Linked DNA regions of Homo sapiens: regions 2, 3 and 4 are each reported to be linked to region 1. Evidence: microRNA targets listed by miRTarBase, many of them from high-throughput screens and not tested one by one. Region 1 holds a microRNA gene; each other region holds the end of a gene's coding sequence. Distances are between the middles of the regions.

Evidence for each region. The annotated mature microRNA hsa-miR-5197-5p reads CAAUGGCACAAACUCAUUCUUGA and lies in region 1 at 2,266-2,288, shown strand. An mRNA with a match to its seed (bases 2 to 7 or 8) in the 3' UTR can be bound and repressed. Matches are read on the target gene's strand: a 7mer-m8 pairs with bases 2 to 8, a 7mer-A1 pairs with bases 2 to 7 and ends in A, and an 8mer does both.
Region 2: the mRNA of ZNF786 is a reported target of hsa-miR-5197-5p. The part of its 3' UTR that is shown has no 7-base or 8-base seed match.
Region 3: miRTarBase lists PRRC1 as a target of hsa-miR-5197-5p. Seed matches in the 3' UTR shown: 7mer-m8 at 2,803-2,809.
Region 4: the mRNA of SESTD1 is a reported target of hsa-miR-5197-5p. The part of its 3' UTR that is shown has no 7-base or 8-base seed match.

The regions. Positions count from the first base shown.
Region 1 is chr5:143,677,621-143,681,772 of GRCh38, forward strand. It overlaps MIR5197 (microRNA 5197), which reads left to right and starts at 2,240; the gene lies at 2,240-2,351.
Region 2 is chr7:149,067,064-149,071,063 of GRCh38, forward strand. ZNF786 (zinc finger protein 786) reads right to left here. Exons shown (of 4, transcript NM_152411.4): 4 at 2,578-4,000. The coding sequence ends at 3,360. Among named protein-coding and RNA genes, the nearest start is that of ZNF786, 22 kb to the right of the region's middle.
Region 3 is chr5:127,551,690-127,555,689 of GRCh38, reverse strand. PRRC1 (proline rich coiled-coil 1) reads right to left here. Exons shown (of 9, transcript NM_130809.5): 9 at 605-3,983. The coding sequence ends at 3,774. It overlaps LOC124901058 (a long non-coding RNA gene), which reads left to right. Exons shown (of 2, transcript XR_007058924.1): 2 at 1-333. Among named protein-coding and RNA genes, the nearest start is that of PRRC1, 36 kb to the right of the region's middle.
Region 4 is chr2:179,106,503-179,110,502 of GRCh38, reverse strand. SESTD1 (SEC14 and spectrin domain containing 1) reads left to right here. Exons shown (of 18, transcript NM_178123.5): 18 at 475-4,000. The coding sequence ends at 604. Among named protein-coding and RNA genes, the nearest start is that of CCDC141, 58 kb to the right of the region's middle. RefSeq lists silencers at 2,495-2,695, 3,775-3,975.

The sequences.
Region 1 (4,152 bases):
GGGACTGGAATGCTGTGGCGGCACATTCCATTTTAATAGAAAGGGTCTGAGGGAATGTGCTGTGCACCTCCAAGCTTGCTCTTATTGTTGAGTACTCCTTTTCTTTTCCCATGTTATTTTTTTCTTAGCTTTTGTTATTACTTTTAATTTATGCCACTTTAAGATCTTAAAATTCTGTGAGTGAGTATGAAGATAACATATTGTATGAAAAGGAATATATTTTAAAATATGTTTTTGACACATTAGAACCTTAATTGTAATCCAATTTGATGGAGCAAGGATCAAACTTCTTGACCCATGATTTGATCAGCCAAGTGGTTTATCTGGGAAGACTTGCTTTAGATATAAAAGGTGAACATTTCCCTCTTAGACTTACATCCCTTATTTCCAACTTGCTATTTAATTTGGATAAAGTTCTTGGTTATTTTACATGTGCTGTTGAATATCTTCAAAACCAAATGGGTTCACTTTCAAAATAGTAAAATGTAAATTTGTTCTCTTAACACTCAGCCTCACAACATTCATACTGTAACATTTTATGTTATTTAATATGGCTTTTAAAACTTACATTAGTAATGTGCTAATGAGACCTTACAGGCTTTAATTCATTACAGAAGATGCAATAAAGACTAATATGAGTAGAGCTTCCTAGGCAACCAGGAATCAGATTTTTTTCTAATGTAAGAAAACTGGTCAATTTTCTACTCTATTGATGTTTGCCATTACAGTAATGAAGCAGGTTACATTTTCTTTGTAATAAGATGATTAATTTGGTTATTGACTTTCTGTTTCAATTTCATGTTTCATTTAAATGATTTGAAAATACAGGTTCTGTATTTTTCCACTACATGCTTGGGTCAGATGTAAAACATTTATTCTATTTGGTTCCCAACTTTAATATCGGAGAGGAATTTTTTTGTTTTTTTCATACTTAGAAGCCATTACACAGATAAAATTATCAATTGAGATTAATAGCATAGAATGTCACCCAATACAAAGGGAACTGGGTATTCATCTCAAAACTTGAATTTGAATGTGGAATCATACAGATAGAAAAATTCTGAGACAGCAGAAGAACAAAAAGTCATCATCTTTTTGTGTGAGTCACTTTCTCCTGAGACCATACCCTACATTTTGGAGGCAGATTGTTTTTTTCAAGCCAGTTACTTTATAGAGATGGGAGAGTGTAGAACTTCAAAATGCCAATGCACATGACCTTCTGATTATATGGACTTGTATAGTTTTCTGAATGTAGGTCTTATACTTCCATAAATTGATGGTTCCTCGAGAACAGATGGCATATTTTATACATCTTTGTATGATACCTAGCAAAGAGCCCTGCACAAAGTAGGTGAATAACAAATGTCTCTGTTAAATAAAGTACCATGAGAAGCATAGATGAGAGAGAGGTAAGGAATGAGGTAAGAGGTTCCAAGGACATGTCTATAAGTAGGTACTTATATTTGTTGTGTACTTTATTTTTATTGAAAGACCCTCTCTAAATCCAAATAGTCATCTACTCAGGTCTGTGGGATACAACAATTCCCCGATTACTTGGCTTAACATTCCTTCCTGCAGAGCCACTATAGGGGTAAATCAGGGATGGTCAAGAGGATTCATTCCTTATACCAACCAGTTATGTAGAATTGGTGGTGATCCCTTGGGCTGCAGTATGGAGAAAGCAGCTCAGACTATTCCTGAGCCCAGTGAAAAAGAGGACAAGATGGCCATCTATGAGCTGGATAATCAAGACAGTCCTGTCTGCTTGGTAGCACGACCCTTCTCCAAGATTTGCCCCTCATCCTTCTTTCAAAGCCCAGATCAAATTCTGCCTCTTCAAGATGGCTTTTCAGATCCCCACCTTCAAGCTAGCACCCTCCCTTTCCTGCTTGTATAGCAAACTATTCTAGCCTTTATTCTCATATTTGTCATAGTCTCCTCATCCATCTATTTCTCTCTACCTACCTAGTTATTCATGTCAATTCCACTAGAGTAGTTTCTCGTGGGGAGGCAGGGATAATCTCTTTCACTTTTCTGTCTCCTATGTGCCCAGTATAAATGGGCTTTACTTATAGGATACGCTTCATAAATGACAATGAAGGAAACTGAACAGCAGACTGATTGATGGAAGGTCACCCAACAGATCATTACAGTGATAAGAGAAAACTGATGGTATGTTAGAGAAGTAGAATGTTCTGTCACTGCAGATTGACCCTGATCTACAGCTAGGGAAGAACTGTATGGGATTCCACAGACAATGAGTATCAATGGCACAAACTCATTCTTGAATTTTTGCCAGTTCAAGAAGAGACTGAGTCATCGAATGCTCTAAATGTCACTTCACCTCATGTTCTGTCAACACAGAGGGTAACTCAGAGTGGCCAGTTCCACTCAACCATCCAAGAAAACAAAACAAGAAAAGCAGACATTAAAAGAGGGCAGTGTTCTGCACTTCACAGGTCTGTGACCTTGGCCAAATTACTTAACCTCTGTAAGCCTTAATTTCTTCTTCCTGTGTAACATGGAGATGATGGTATCTACTTACAGGCAAGAGTTGAGATAATATATGCAAAATTCTTGGCATGGTAGAATATTAATTGAACTATGAAGATGATTGTATCCACTATTCCCTTTTCCCTTCTTGGCTATTTCATTTCCATTCATGTTACTTTGTTTTATATATACACTGCTTTACTGTGTATGAGAAAAATGACTGTCCACTGGTAGAAATATAGCCTGAGGTTTTTTTTGTTTTTAATTCTCTCTCTCTCTTTTTTTTTTTTTTTTTTTTTGAGATAGAGTCTCACTGGAGTGCAGTGGTATAATCTTGGCTCACTGCAACCTCTGCCTCCCGGGTTCAAGTGATCCTCCCACCTCAGCCTCCCAAGTAGCTAATACTACATGTGTGTACCACCATGCCTGGCTAATTTTTTGTATGTTCAGTAGAGACAGGGTTTTACCATGTTTCCCAGGCTTGTCTGGAACTCCTGACCTCGGGTAATCCACCTGGCTTGGCCTCCCATGGTGCTGGGATTACAGGCACAAGCCACCGTGCTGGGCCTTTTTTAAATTATCTAACCCTAGCCCCTGAATTTTTAAAACCACCATGGAACATCACTGGAATGAAAATGGAGACCATGTGACTTCTTCAGCTTTCCAAAGAAAACAGGTTTACTGATTATACGCAGCTAGAATGGTTGGCATAATTGTTATGAATGACAAACCCTTCAATTCATTGATGTGTATGAGTCAGTGATGTTGGGATAAATGTCTTTGGATACACATTACACAGTGCTCCCAGATGTTTATATTCCTTCCCACTCCCTAACCTAATCCTAAAATATTAGCTCTCTAGACAAGAGCATAAACTGAAAACTCATATTTGCTCTTAGGACTCTTTACAATCATTTTCACATGTGATTATCTTGGTGTGTACATAGAGTGGCCATCTTTGTTTACAATGAAGACGCGAAAGCCCAAAGGTTGGCTAATGTAACCATGGAAACCAAGCTAATAAATGGTCAAATCTGTACCAAGAATAATTCTAGAGACTTCAGTTGCTTCAGAGATGGATGAGGTAGGAGTTTTTCTCAGAGGGATGCAGGTCTGTCTGTGGTCGCTTAGTTGGGTTGATTCCCACATAGTATTAATGAGCATATGGAAAGATAACAAAAGCAGCTAACACTTATTGAATACTAAAGTCTGAAGTAGCGTGCCAAGTACTTTCAGGCATTATCTCTAATCCTTATCACAAGTATATGAGGTAGGTACTATTATTAGACCCACTTTCTAAATGAGAAAATAAGCTTGGACTAGTAAGTAATTTGTTTAAGGTCATTCAACTAACAAGTGGCAAAGGATAAAAGTTAAATTTAAGTTTACCTGACTCCCAAGTTCATATTCTTTTTTTTTGAGATGAAGTTTTGCTCTGTTACCCAGGCTGGAGTGCAGTGGTGCAATCTCAGCTCACTGGAACCTCCGCCCCCCGAGTTCAAGTGATTCTCCTGTCTCAGCCTCTTGAGTAGCTGGGATTACAGGTGCATGCCACCATGCCCGGCTAATTTTTGTATTTTTAGTAGAGACAGGCTTTCACCATGTTGATCAGGCTGGTCTCGAACTCCTGACCTCGTGATCCACCTGCCCCAGCTTCCC
Region 2 (4,000 bases), not on the chromosome of region 1:
TTCTGTCCATAAAACCAACCGCGGGCCGGGTGCAGTGGCTCACACCTATAATCCCAGCACTTTGGGAGGCCAAGGTGGGCAGATCACGAGATCAGGAGTTCGAGACCAGCCTGGCCATCCTGGTGAAACCCCCGTCTCTACTAAAAATACAAAAAATTAGCCAGGCATGGTGGCGCATACCTGTAATCCCAGCTACTTGGGAGGCTGAGGCAGAATTGCTTGAACCCAGGAGGTGGAGGTTGCAGTGAGCCAAGATAGCGCCACTGCTCTCCAGCCTGGGCGACAGAGGGAGACTCCTTCTTAAAAAAAAAAAAAAAAACCCGCCTTGGCTGGCTCATCCAAACACTTATTCTGTTTTTCTGTTTTTGTTTTTGAGACCGAGTTTCGCTCGTTGCCCAGGCTGGAGTGCAATGGCACGATCTCGGCTCACTGCAACCTCCGCCTCCCGGGTTCAAGCGATTCTCCCGCCTCAGCCTCCCGAGTAGCTGGAATTACAGGTTCGCATTGCCACACCCACCTAATTTTTTGTATTTTTAGTACAGACAGGGTTTCACCATGGCCAGGCTGGTCTTGAACTTCTGACCTCAGGTGATCTGCCCGCCTCGGCCTCTCAGAGTGCTGGGATTACAGGCGTGAGCCACCACGCCGGGCCACTTATTCTGTTTCATGGGATGAAGTGTTGCTCAATTCTAGAATACCAAATAAGCCAATTAAGATTTTTAAACTAAATGTGTTGTAATTTTGTCTTTTGACAGTGCCATTGTACAGGTGATTCACTACTCCACCACTCCACTCACCTACTCACAATGACGGTTTTCAACATTTCAGGAACGGTTTCTACCTTAGGCTCAGAGCAATTCCTACTTCTCCCTCATGAGGAATTGGAGGAGGTGGTGATAAAATTCTTCATCTGGTTGTGAGGTGGTATTTCACACAACTCCTTGATAAATATTGGAGGTGATACTGGATACAGGAAAACTTACAATAATCAGATTGTTACAGGTAGTTAGGCATCAACAGGGCAGCAGAGGGCTCTCTCCCGACCCACTAGAAATGTCAGGTGATGGTTCAGCAATTAACAAATTGCCTCTCTAAGAATGAGAATTCGGCAGCCAGGGAGAGACAATCTCTTGATGGTCCACACCTGTTAACATTAAAAGTGTTAATTGAATACAGCCCCCCAAGCAGCAGCTTCTTGGGCACCCGTGTTAAGAGACAAATGGCGAAGTATAGGCCGGGCACGGTGGCTCACACCTATAATCCCAGCACTTTGGGAGGCTGAGGTGGGTAGATCACCTGAGGTCAGGAGTTCAAGACCAGCCTGGCCCACATTTTATATTTTTTGTATTTTTAGTCTCTACTAAAAATACAAAAATAGGCATGGTGGCACGTGATGGCGTGCGCCTTTAGTCCCAGCTACTCAGGAGGTTGAGAAAGAAGGATCACTTGAGCTTGGGAGGTGGAGGATACAGCGAGCTAAGATCATGGCACTGTACTCCAGGCTGGCTGACAGAGACTCCAAAAAAAAAAAAAAAAAGAAAAGAAAGGCCGGCACCGTGGCTCATGCCTGTAATCCCAGCACTTTGGGAGGCTGAGGCGGGCGGATCACGAGGTCAAGAGATCGAGACCATCCTGGCTAACACGGTGAAACTCTGTCTCTACTAAAAATACAAAAAATTAGCTGGGCGTGGTGGCGGGCGCCTGTGGTCCCAGCTACTTGGGAGCCTGAGGCAGGAGAATGGCATGAACCCGGAAGGTGGAGCTTGCGGTGAGCCGAGATCATGCCACTGCACCCCAGCCTGGGCGACAGAGCAAGACTCCATCTCAAAGAAAAAAAAAAAGGAATTTATAATTATATATTATTCTGTATCTTTATATATTAATTATATATTCTATAATTTTTTTGAGATGGAGTCTTGCTCTGTCTCCCAAGTTGGAATGCAGTGGTGCAATCCCAGCTCAATGCAACCTCCACCTCTGGGGTTCAAGCGATTCTCCTGCCTCAGCCTCCGGCGTAGCCAAGACTACAGGTGCATGCCACCATGCCCGGCTAATTTTTGTACTTTTTGGTAGAGATGGTGTTTCACCATGTTGGCCAGTCTGGTCTTGAACTCCTGACCTCAAGTGATCCTCCTGCCTTGACCTCCCAAAGTAATGGGATTATAGGTATGAGCCACCACGCCAGGCTATATTCTATAAATTCTAAAGAGAATGAAAAGGACTTGCCAAGCTTCCTTTGGGAGATACTAAATTTGTTTTTTTTTTTTTTTTGAGACGGAGTCTCGCTCTGTCACCCAGGCTGGAGTGCAGTGGCTTGATCTTGGCTCACTGCAAGCTCCGCCTCCTGGGCTCACACCATTCTCCTGCCTCAGCCTCCTGGGACTACAGGTGCCTGCCACCACACCCGGCTAATTTTTTTTTTTTTTTTGTATTTTTAGTAGAGACAGGGTTTCACTGTGTTTGCCAGGATGGTCTCGATCTCCTGACCTTGTGATCCACCCGCCTCAGCCTCCCAAAGTGCTGGGATTACAGGCGTGAGCCACCACCCCTGGCCCAAATTTTTTTTTTTTTTTTTTTGAGACAGTGTCATACTATGTCATCCATACTGGAGTGCAGTGGCACCATCATTGCTCACTGCAGCCTTGACCTCCCTGGGCTCAGGCGATCCTCCCACCTCAGCTTCAGGAGTAGCTGGGACTACTGGTGTGTACCACCATGCCTGGCTAATTTTTGTATTTTTAGTAGAGACAGGGTTTTGCCATGTTGCCCAAGCTGGTCTCAAACTCCTTGGCTCGTGATCCTCCTGCCACGGCCTCCCAAGTGCTGGGATTACAGGCATGAACCACTGTGCCTGGCCTAAATTTACTTTTATAACAATTACTTTTTAAAATGTCAGAACTTCCTTATAATTACACACATATATTTTTATACAAATGCACAAAGGTAATCACATCTTATCTGGATTTCTGTGTGCACCTTTTCTTAAAAATGTTAACAATCACATATAACCTCGTAGAAATTGTTTTCGTTTGCAGATGCCTCCTTTTTCATAAAATTATGTCCTTGTTTTATAATGCTGTCTTTTCCAATATAGCTGGGATCACGCCACTGCACTCCAGCCTGGGTGACAGAGCAAAACTCCATCTTGGAAAAAAAAAAAAAAAAGAAAGAAATATAATTGGTGATGCTTCTGAAGAGAAAATCCTTTGTGGTTCTTCATATTCCTAACTTGCATGACACTCTTGCTCAAAGAAGGATACCTGCTCCTAAAACCCGTCTACCAGCGGGTCTGGCTACTGTTGCTGTGGATTCCTGGGCAATACCAATCCTGCTCAACGCTTTGGATGTCCCACTCTGCCTCAACTCCAATCGGCCTCTATCATTGCAAACAGTTGGCTGAGCCTTTTCTTAATGTCCAGTTCATTTGGAGCAGGACAGGATTTTGTGTGTACTCTGATGTGCTCCGCAAGCTTAGACTTGTAAATGAAGCCCTTCCCACAATCGCCACAGGCAAAGGGCCTCTCGGGCCTGTGGATGCGCTGGTGCCTCAGCATGTGTCCCCTTTCCCGGAAGTTCTTGTCACACTCAGGGCAGTGAAAAGGCCTCTCCCCTGTGTGCAGGCCCTGATGGCTGAGCAGCTGCGCCTTCAGGCGGAAACTCTTGTCACACTTGGGACACTGAAAAGGCTTCTCTCCCGTGTGCGTTCTGATGTGCTCGATGAGCTTTGAGTGTTTCACAAAGCCCTTGCCGCACTCACAGGAGAAAGGCATCTCCCCGCTGTGCAGCAGCTGGTGGGCCTTCATGTCGGCCTTCACGCGATAGCGCTTGTCGCACTCCGGACACTGGAAGGGCCTCTCTCCCGTGTGCAGGCGCTGATGGCTGAGCAGCTGCCCCTTCAGGCGGAAGCTCCTGTTGCACTCTGGGCACTGGAAGGGTCTCTCCCCGCTGTGCACGCGCAAGTGCTCCGTGAGCTTGGATTGTCTGGTGAAGCCCTTGCCAC
Region 3 (4,000 bases), 16 Mb from region 1:
AAAATCTCCTACAATATTATAATGATGGATACATGTCATTATACATTTGCCTAAACCCATAAGAATGTACAACCCTAAGAGTAACTAAGGTAAACTATGGGCTATGGGAGATGTTAGGTCAATGCAGGTTCATTGATTGTTTATTATTCATTGATTATGGACCACTTATTGTTCATTGATTATGGACCACTCTGGTGGGGAGTGTTGATAAAGAGAGAAGAAGCTATGCATATGTAGGGGAAGGCGATATATGGGAAATCTCTGTACTTTCCCTCCTTTTAATTAATTCTGCTGTGAACTGAAACTAAGAAATAAAACTACTCGAAAACCCAATACTCAAGAAGTGTCCTCATGACCATAGGCCTTAAATTCTTGCCTATTACCTTTATCTCCAATGTATCCTCTCCTCTAAATATTTTGAGTTCTTGCACCCTGAAGTTAGCAACTCTGGTATATGTGAATGTTACAGTTCCACTAGAAAGATGGTGGTTAAGTTGCTGTTGTACAAGAATTCTTGGCAGCCAGTAACAAATTTAGGTAAAAAGAAATATGCGTCCTTTCAATATAAACTAGCATTTAAAAAAAAAATCGCTATACAACTTTGGAAATAAGTCAAAGCATTGTTTATTTATGACATATTTACATATTTACAAAACTGATTTTACTCAATACATCATCCTGCGTAATATCATAAAATGAACACCATATCCTGGGAATAAAAATCCATATTTCTTAATAATTTATGTATAGCCCAACTTTTAGAACATAGAATATTATCAATTTGGCTTCCCAAACTACAAAGTCCTGTTTATAATTTTTTCTAGCCAAGGAACAGAGTAGATTCAACAGCATATTAAAGTAATTTAGTTAACCCTGAGTAATTACTAACTTGCATAATTTTGAATGGATGTATATAACACACTTTCATCTGCACTTAGATACTTATACTATCACACTACCTTTTTGTATTTATCCACCTCAATTTTCAACTTCATTAATCTTCAGAAGAAAGAGGAATAAAGAATAGGAAAGTAATAACAGAATCATTACGAGGAAATTACTAGCACTGCCTAAACATTCAGAAGTCTGTGACACAGTTTAGGTCTAGGGTTGTCTCAAAAACCTAACAAAAGGAGGATCCCGAATTGAATAATCTGAGCACCTTGTCAACTGAGGTTGATATTAAATTATTTTTCCTGCATTCTTTGTTTCCTTTCACACTAATTAAATATTGTGTACAAGCTTATAAAATTCAATAATTTGTATTAAAATACAAAATCCAATAACAACCAGGAGTTCTTCGGAAGAAAAAAAAAATCACAAAACAACCCCAACAGTGGTGAAGAACTATATTAAAGATGGCTTTTCCTAAGACAGAGGGAGAACAAAAGCAAATAGCACTCTCCCTCCGCCAAGGCTAGAGCAGGAGGTTCAAGGAAATGGGCAGGAAGAGAACAGAACACTCAAGCTGGACGATTAGTGAAGGAAACTGTGGCCTGAGACTGATGATCAGCATATCTTATGCCTAAACACCACCACTAAGACTACCTGGCTAAGCTGCCATGGTGTGTTAGAGATGATGAGTTACTTTTCTTGCCCCTTTTACAACAGGGAAATCTAAGGACAACAAAATAAACAAAAGGCTGAGAAAGCTGAGCATGTGAAGTCAGTCATGCTCCGCTGCTTTTCAAAAACTCTGGGCCAAGAACAGAACCAGAGAGGCCAGAGCAGTTCATGTATTTCTCTCTTCCATCTGACCATCTCTCATCTTCCTCACCCACTCACACGGTTCCGAGCAGGAGGCTTACCAGGTCACCAGGGGCAGGAAAATTTCTAGCTTCAACCAAGCCATGGACTGCCACTGCTCTTTGGGGATTCTAGGAAAATAATCATCTAATGAAATGTCAGTATTTGTGATTCTATGAGAACAATTCTCAAAACATCAAAAAGACATTTGTGACTTGGTAAAATAAAAATCAAAGAAAAATTAAGGTATTTTTAGAATCTGTAAGATTTCCTTATAATAGGAGGGAAAGTAGCAGAACTATTTTAAGTAAGGACATGCTTCCCTTCAGTCTGTAATGAAAGACTGTTGTTGTCATCATGCCATTGCCATGATAAAATACTACTAGAAAAGGATAGCTTTTAAAATAAAGTGTAGACGCAAATGGTAGAGAAAGCCTTCTTGTACTTGAAGGAAAGAAAGAAAGTATTCTGTCCCTGTTACTCCTGGACAAAAGTACACCAAGGCAACCTATAACCTCTCTGTGCTGTCTCTCATGACTTTTAATGACACGGAAGTCTGATATTCACTGAACAGTCATTATACAGTGCTTGGAAAGTAACATATATTTAATATTCAAATTTAATATTCATTCTTCTTATCCTCAGGTAAAAAAATAGCAGAAACCAAATAATGACTTGAAGTGGCATTAACACAAAGCAAACCTGATACCTATGATACCTAAAGACAGTGCAGGACAAGAGCTTCAACAGCTTTTATAAAACTGCCAGAGATTGTGCTAATTCTTTTACATCTAAAGAACTGTATAGAAGAGTAAAAAAATTAAATTACATTTATATAAGAAACTATCTTCGAAAAAGTTATTTGAACTTGTATATACAAAGTCCAACAGTATTAAGAAAAAAATTTATTTAATTATCATTTATATAAGTCCAAAAATGATATAATATATTATTTGAGGGGAAAAGGCTTCCACGAAATAGAAATACAGTAGACTAAATAAACTAGATTGAATATAAAATAGTTTCTTTGAAAACATCCATAAAAAGTAAAGACCAAATGGCACAAAGTTAAAAAAGTAATGCTTAAGGCAAACCAAATAAGTAACCTTAATTGAAGTAAGAGACATACTAACCCACAAGCAATAAAGTAACCCCCTCTCAAAAATTTCTGTATTAAAATGTGTAGAGAATATGAGTGGAAGCAGAAACAATGGCTGTTGTCAGAGCTTATTCTTGGAAGTACTGAACAGTATTATACAAAAATAATTTGAATACTTCTGATTTAAAATATACTTGAATCATTTGCCCCTTAGCTGTCATATAGCAATGAAAAAATAAAATGTATTACCCCAATGTTCATAGTATAAATCTGGGAAATGCCAAAAGTTATGTTTAAAATTGACAAAGGTATGATTTTCCAGATTACATGTGTACGTGATGGCCAAAAAGGAAAATAATCAATTCCATTATTTTGGCCCATATTACTGAAAACATGCACAGAAATGTGGAACATCTCCCGACAAGTAGGTGTCTTATAGTGACTGTTGAGCAGGCTGCTCAGCACCAGCCCTGAGATCGTGTGCACATACAAAAGTAGTCAAAGACTGACAGAAAAGAGATGAAGCCAAAGCAAATCATGCTTTTATAAACATTCAACCAACATGTTCTTTAATAATGTCTTCTTTAAAGAACAAAATAATCAAGTACATGGCATTAAGTTAAATGTCTCTGCACATGAATTTCCACCTTATAAATCTGGTATATTAAATTGTGCTGTAAATAGATTTGTATATTTTCTTTTTTGAGTACTATGATAGGTGAAATGGTATGACTATAAAAAGGATTTGTTTCTTTTTGTCTCCTGGAATGACATGATGCCTTTCTAGAGAAAGAAAAATTGCAGGCTACAGGAAAATGATAAAAACTACTGGATTCATTTAGACTATTCGATTTAGGAAGGTACAACCACTTCTTTAACATCAAGCTAAAAGTGGGGGAAAGTCTCAGTCTCCCAGGTAGGTCTCCTCTCACACTGTCCTGGGTGGCAGGCGCTGTTTATACATGCCCGCTATCGCTCTGGCTGCACTGTAGATCATCTGCCGACGGGACATCCCAGTAAATGCCATGTGCCAATCAGTCCGGCTGACATTCAGTAAACTCTTTTCCAGGACTTCACCCACTGTCACCAAAAGGCCTGACCACCTCAGATTATAGTCCTGGGGAGTTAGACTTTGAGCCTGTGGAAAGATGAAAT
Region 4 (4,000 bases), not on the chromosome of region 1:
TACAGTATCTTTGAGAGTAGAATAAAATTAATAATTTTATCTGTTAATGTACCAAAAAATGTCATAACATTAAAAAGAATATTTATTTTGCTTGCCAGCTCTATAGACAAGTGGTGTCCCCAGCCGGTAGCACTCAAGTACCTGTATAAATTTTATGTTTGTGCATCCTTCTGGACCCACATATTTCCAGTGTTTCATTGTTCAATTTGTTGCTATTATCATAACTACACATGATATAACCTTTATACCATCAATATATTTTTCTCATCATGTCTTAATGTATTTTATGCCATTTTAAAAAATGTTTTTCCTGCTGAATTTCCTGCTCAAACAGTATGATCACCGATGAACTGATATTTACACATAGGCTATCTCATGTAGATTTTTTATGGTAAATTTTTGCTTCTATTTGTATTCACTGCAGTTAATAGATTTGTATTAATCTGAGGTTTTTCTGTGTGTTTTGATTTTTAGAACCGAACAATATTTTGGGAGTCCAAGTGACATGGCTTCTACTGCAGAAAACATCAGAGACAGGATGAAACTAGTTAATCTCAAAAGGCAGCAGCTGAGACATCCTGAAATGGTGACCACAGAGAGCTAATAGCTACCAGCTACCTACAGATTTGCAGTTCATAATCCCGCATGTTGTCAACATACTACAGCATTAGCCACCACACCTTAAGATGCATTTCACAGCCAAAATAAGTCTCATTTCTTTTCATGACACATTTCTCTTTACATGTTAACACCTTGCTACTACCAAGGCATAATTACTTAACATGCTTCGAGGCTGTAGATTCCAAGTATCTTAAAAGAAGGAACTATAAACATTGCACTGAAAACTTGCTTTAAAGCTTTACCTGACCTGTCAGTTTGTAGACAAACAACTGATAATAAGCTTTGAATGGTGCTAATAAGAGTAGGAATTCTCTCTATTAAAAAGAAAAAAAAAAGTTGCCCTTCCTCCACAGGTGATTTAGTAAATTTAGACAGTAGTTAAACTCTTGTTAGTAGACAGTGGTGTCCTCAAAATTTTACTTTGTAATTCTTCAGAATTGATTATTTTTATTGTGTCAATACAGAGAAAGCCTTTCAGATCTTTGATATATCATAGTCATTAAAAGACCTTTTCCTATTTGTATTGATAATGTATTAAAAGTTGTTTGTGCTTAATAAAAGACTTCTTTAAACATCTTATTTAATTTAGTAGTTACATCCTATTTCCAAACATGAGTGCCTTATTTAAAAGGGCATTCTTAGGACTGTGAGGATGGTTTAATATTTGTTTTTTCATGGTGGTTGCATGTATTTTAGACAGGAAATACATATGTAAGCATGTGTATATAATAAATAAGCATGTTTTATCATGAAAAATTATTGTGAACAATTTAGATCTTTAAGAACTTATTAATAATGGAATACTATTTCTAATTTTTCTCTTTTTCAACTTGAAAAATATTCTCAAAATTATTAACTACCCTGAAGATACTTTGTCTTTAGGGGAGGAGGGCTGAGGAAGAAGGCATACATAATTACTTCAGTGTAATCCTTTATATCAGAGTAATCTTTCAGGAACTAAAATAGCAATTGTTAATAAAATTTAGTTTCTCATTATAGTCTAAAAGCAAAATAAATTCTGAAGTAGTCCAATAACAGAACTGTATGACCCCTTTAGAAATAAAATTTATCATGAAATGCTAGTTCTTTTAAGTTTGTATTAAGTTTAAATGGTAAAATGCATATAATTTAAATTTTATGTATTTTTATTTCAGAACATTTTTTAAAATATTAAAAATTATTTTTTAGTCTTGTAGTCATTACAAAATTATAAACGAGTTGTATACTGGTTCCTTTTTGAGGTCTACAAACATGCTCGTGTATCTTCCAATGCAAAAAAAAAACCCCTCCCTTTTAACCTGCTAGTTTTTCCAGCCTTCTTCACTGACTGACAGACTTCTTGGAGAAATCCACATCCAGTGCCCCTACATCCTCATCACTCACTACTCAGCACCTTGCAGTCTGGTTTTACACAGCACTCTACTGAAACTGTTCTTTTGAAAGTCAGCAATGGCCTCCCAGTTACCAAACTGAATGGTTTTTTTCTCCGTCTGAATCCCTTACCCTTTTCTCTGCAACATTTACACCATTGAGCAACCTTTCCTAGACAGTGTCTCCTTCCTTGAAGATGCTATCCTCTGAAATAACTGTGAGTACAGTCGCATAACCCTAATTTAAGATGTGCCTGCTGAACATGTGCTCTCTCAGATCCTGTCCTCAGAATGCTTTTGGCTCTTTTCTCGGTATCTCATCCTTAGAGTTTTTATTTTATACCAATGTTCTGGATTACATACCTGGTCCAGAAATCTAGACTTGTACTTCTTTTTAATTGCCTAGTTGACATTTCAACCTTGATTAAAGATTGACAATATTTATCACCTTTTCCTCCTGGAACAATTTAGGTTAATGGTGCAGCCTTTTTTCCTAGTCAAACATGCCAGGAAGTTCAGGGCAAAGTTCAACTGCTCCCTCTTGTCTTATGTGGTCACTGCTTCTGAGAACATCCAGGAAGTTCTTTCTATACTTGAATCATCTTCTCAGTCCTTTGGGGCTTTACTGCTATGAGTATGAACTTTTGTGATTATTTATTTCAGTCTTCATGATGGTGCTATCACATTCTACAGTTGTTTATGTCTGTACCCAGTAAGCTCTTTTGAGGGAAGGAATCTTGTCTTCTCCTATTCCCAGTCTTGCTCATGCATAACAGATGCCCATTCCTCCTAAATATGAATGCTGTATTATAGGCATTAGTAATAATCCCTGTTACATTGCAGTCTGAAGTATGTTTTAAACATACTTTTTTAAAGTTAGAACTGACTTACAAGTGAATCTATTCTTAGATTCTTAGATACTAACTACTTTAGATATTTAGTTATACTCAATAACTAAATATCAATACTCAATATCTGTTTCTTCTGAATTTCAGAGTAGTTAGAATGTTTTTCTTAAGACTTTGCTAGAAAGGAACTGGTTTGTTAGTAATTCTGCCATCAACTCATGGAGTTATAATTGCCAAATGAGTTAATTTTTATATACCTTAAGCTATCTTGCCTACAAAAAGTAAAATAAGGCAGGATTCATAAATGTTACTTGTAAATTGAGTGTTTCACATGAGGCCAAGTATGATTTTAACATAATGAATATCATTGCTCCTCATCTGTAAATTTGCTGCTGCTTTCATATGTGTATCTGTACATAGAGTTATGAATGAAAATCCAGTAATGCCCTAAAGCAACTTTCTTCCATAGGGTCAAAGCTCACTTAAGGTAAACGTGTGAAAAAAGTGACTGCAGTGTGTTTGAAACCACAAGCTGTTTCTATGTCATAAATTAACATCAGCTTGCAAGTCTCTGAAAGAACCACTCATTTGTAATTGGTATATATGTCACAACCTCCCACATTCCTTTAGCCCATCTCAGGGAATTATTGAAACGCTGGCAGGGTTAGTTTCATTTTGTTTTGGTTTTTTTGGGTTTTTTTGTTTGTTTGAGGATTTTTTTTTTCTTTTATCATTTGTTTGCTCCTGTGTAAGCTTAATATATAATGGCAGTTTGGCATCTGTTCTTCGCACATGTCTAACCCAGCAGAGTTATGCAAAAATGATGACTTCATTTTAGGTCAAATTGGCTTTGTTCCCAGTCCTCATTGTTGGTCACTTTGTTCAGTTCTGGTGACTCATTGGTGATGTTGATGAAACTGCTCAGCCTGCCAGCTGGGATATTGATGGCAGGTCTAGGCTTCATTGTTAGGTAGAAGATTGAATACTTCTCACTTTATACAAATTTACATTGGCTATTGCTCCCATGTGTTAGCTAGTCTTAACATGTTTGTTATTTCGTTATCTTATTAGCTGACATACGGAGTGGTATTATTAGTGTCGTACTCCTTAGCGTGAGCATGACAATTAAGTTACCTTACTAACAGTGATGAGTAAACCATA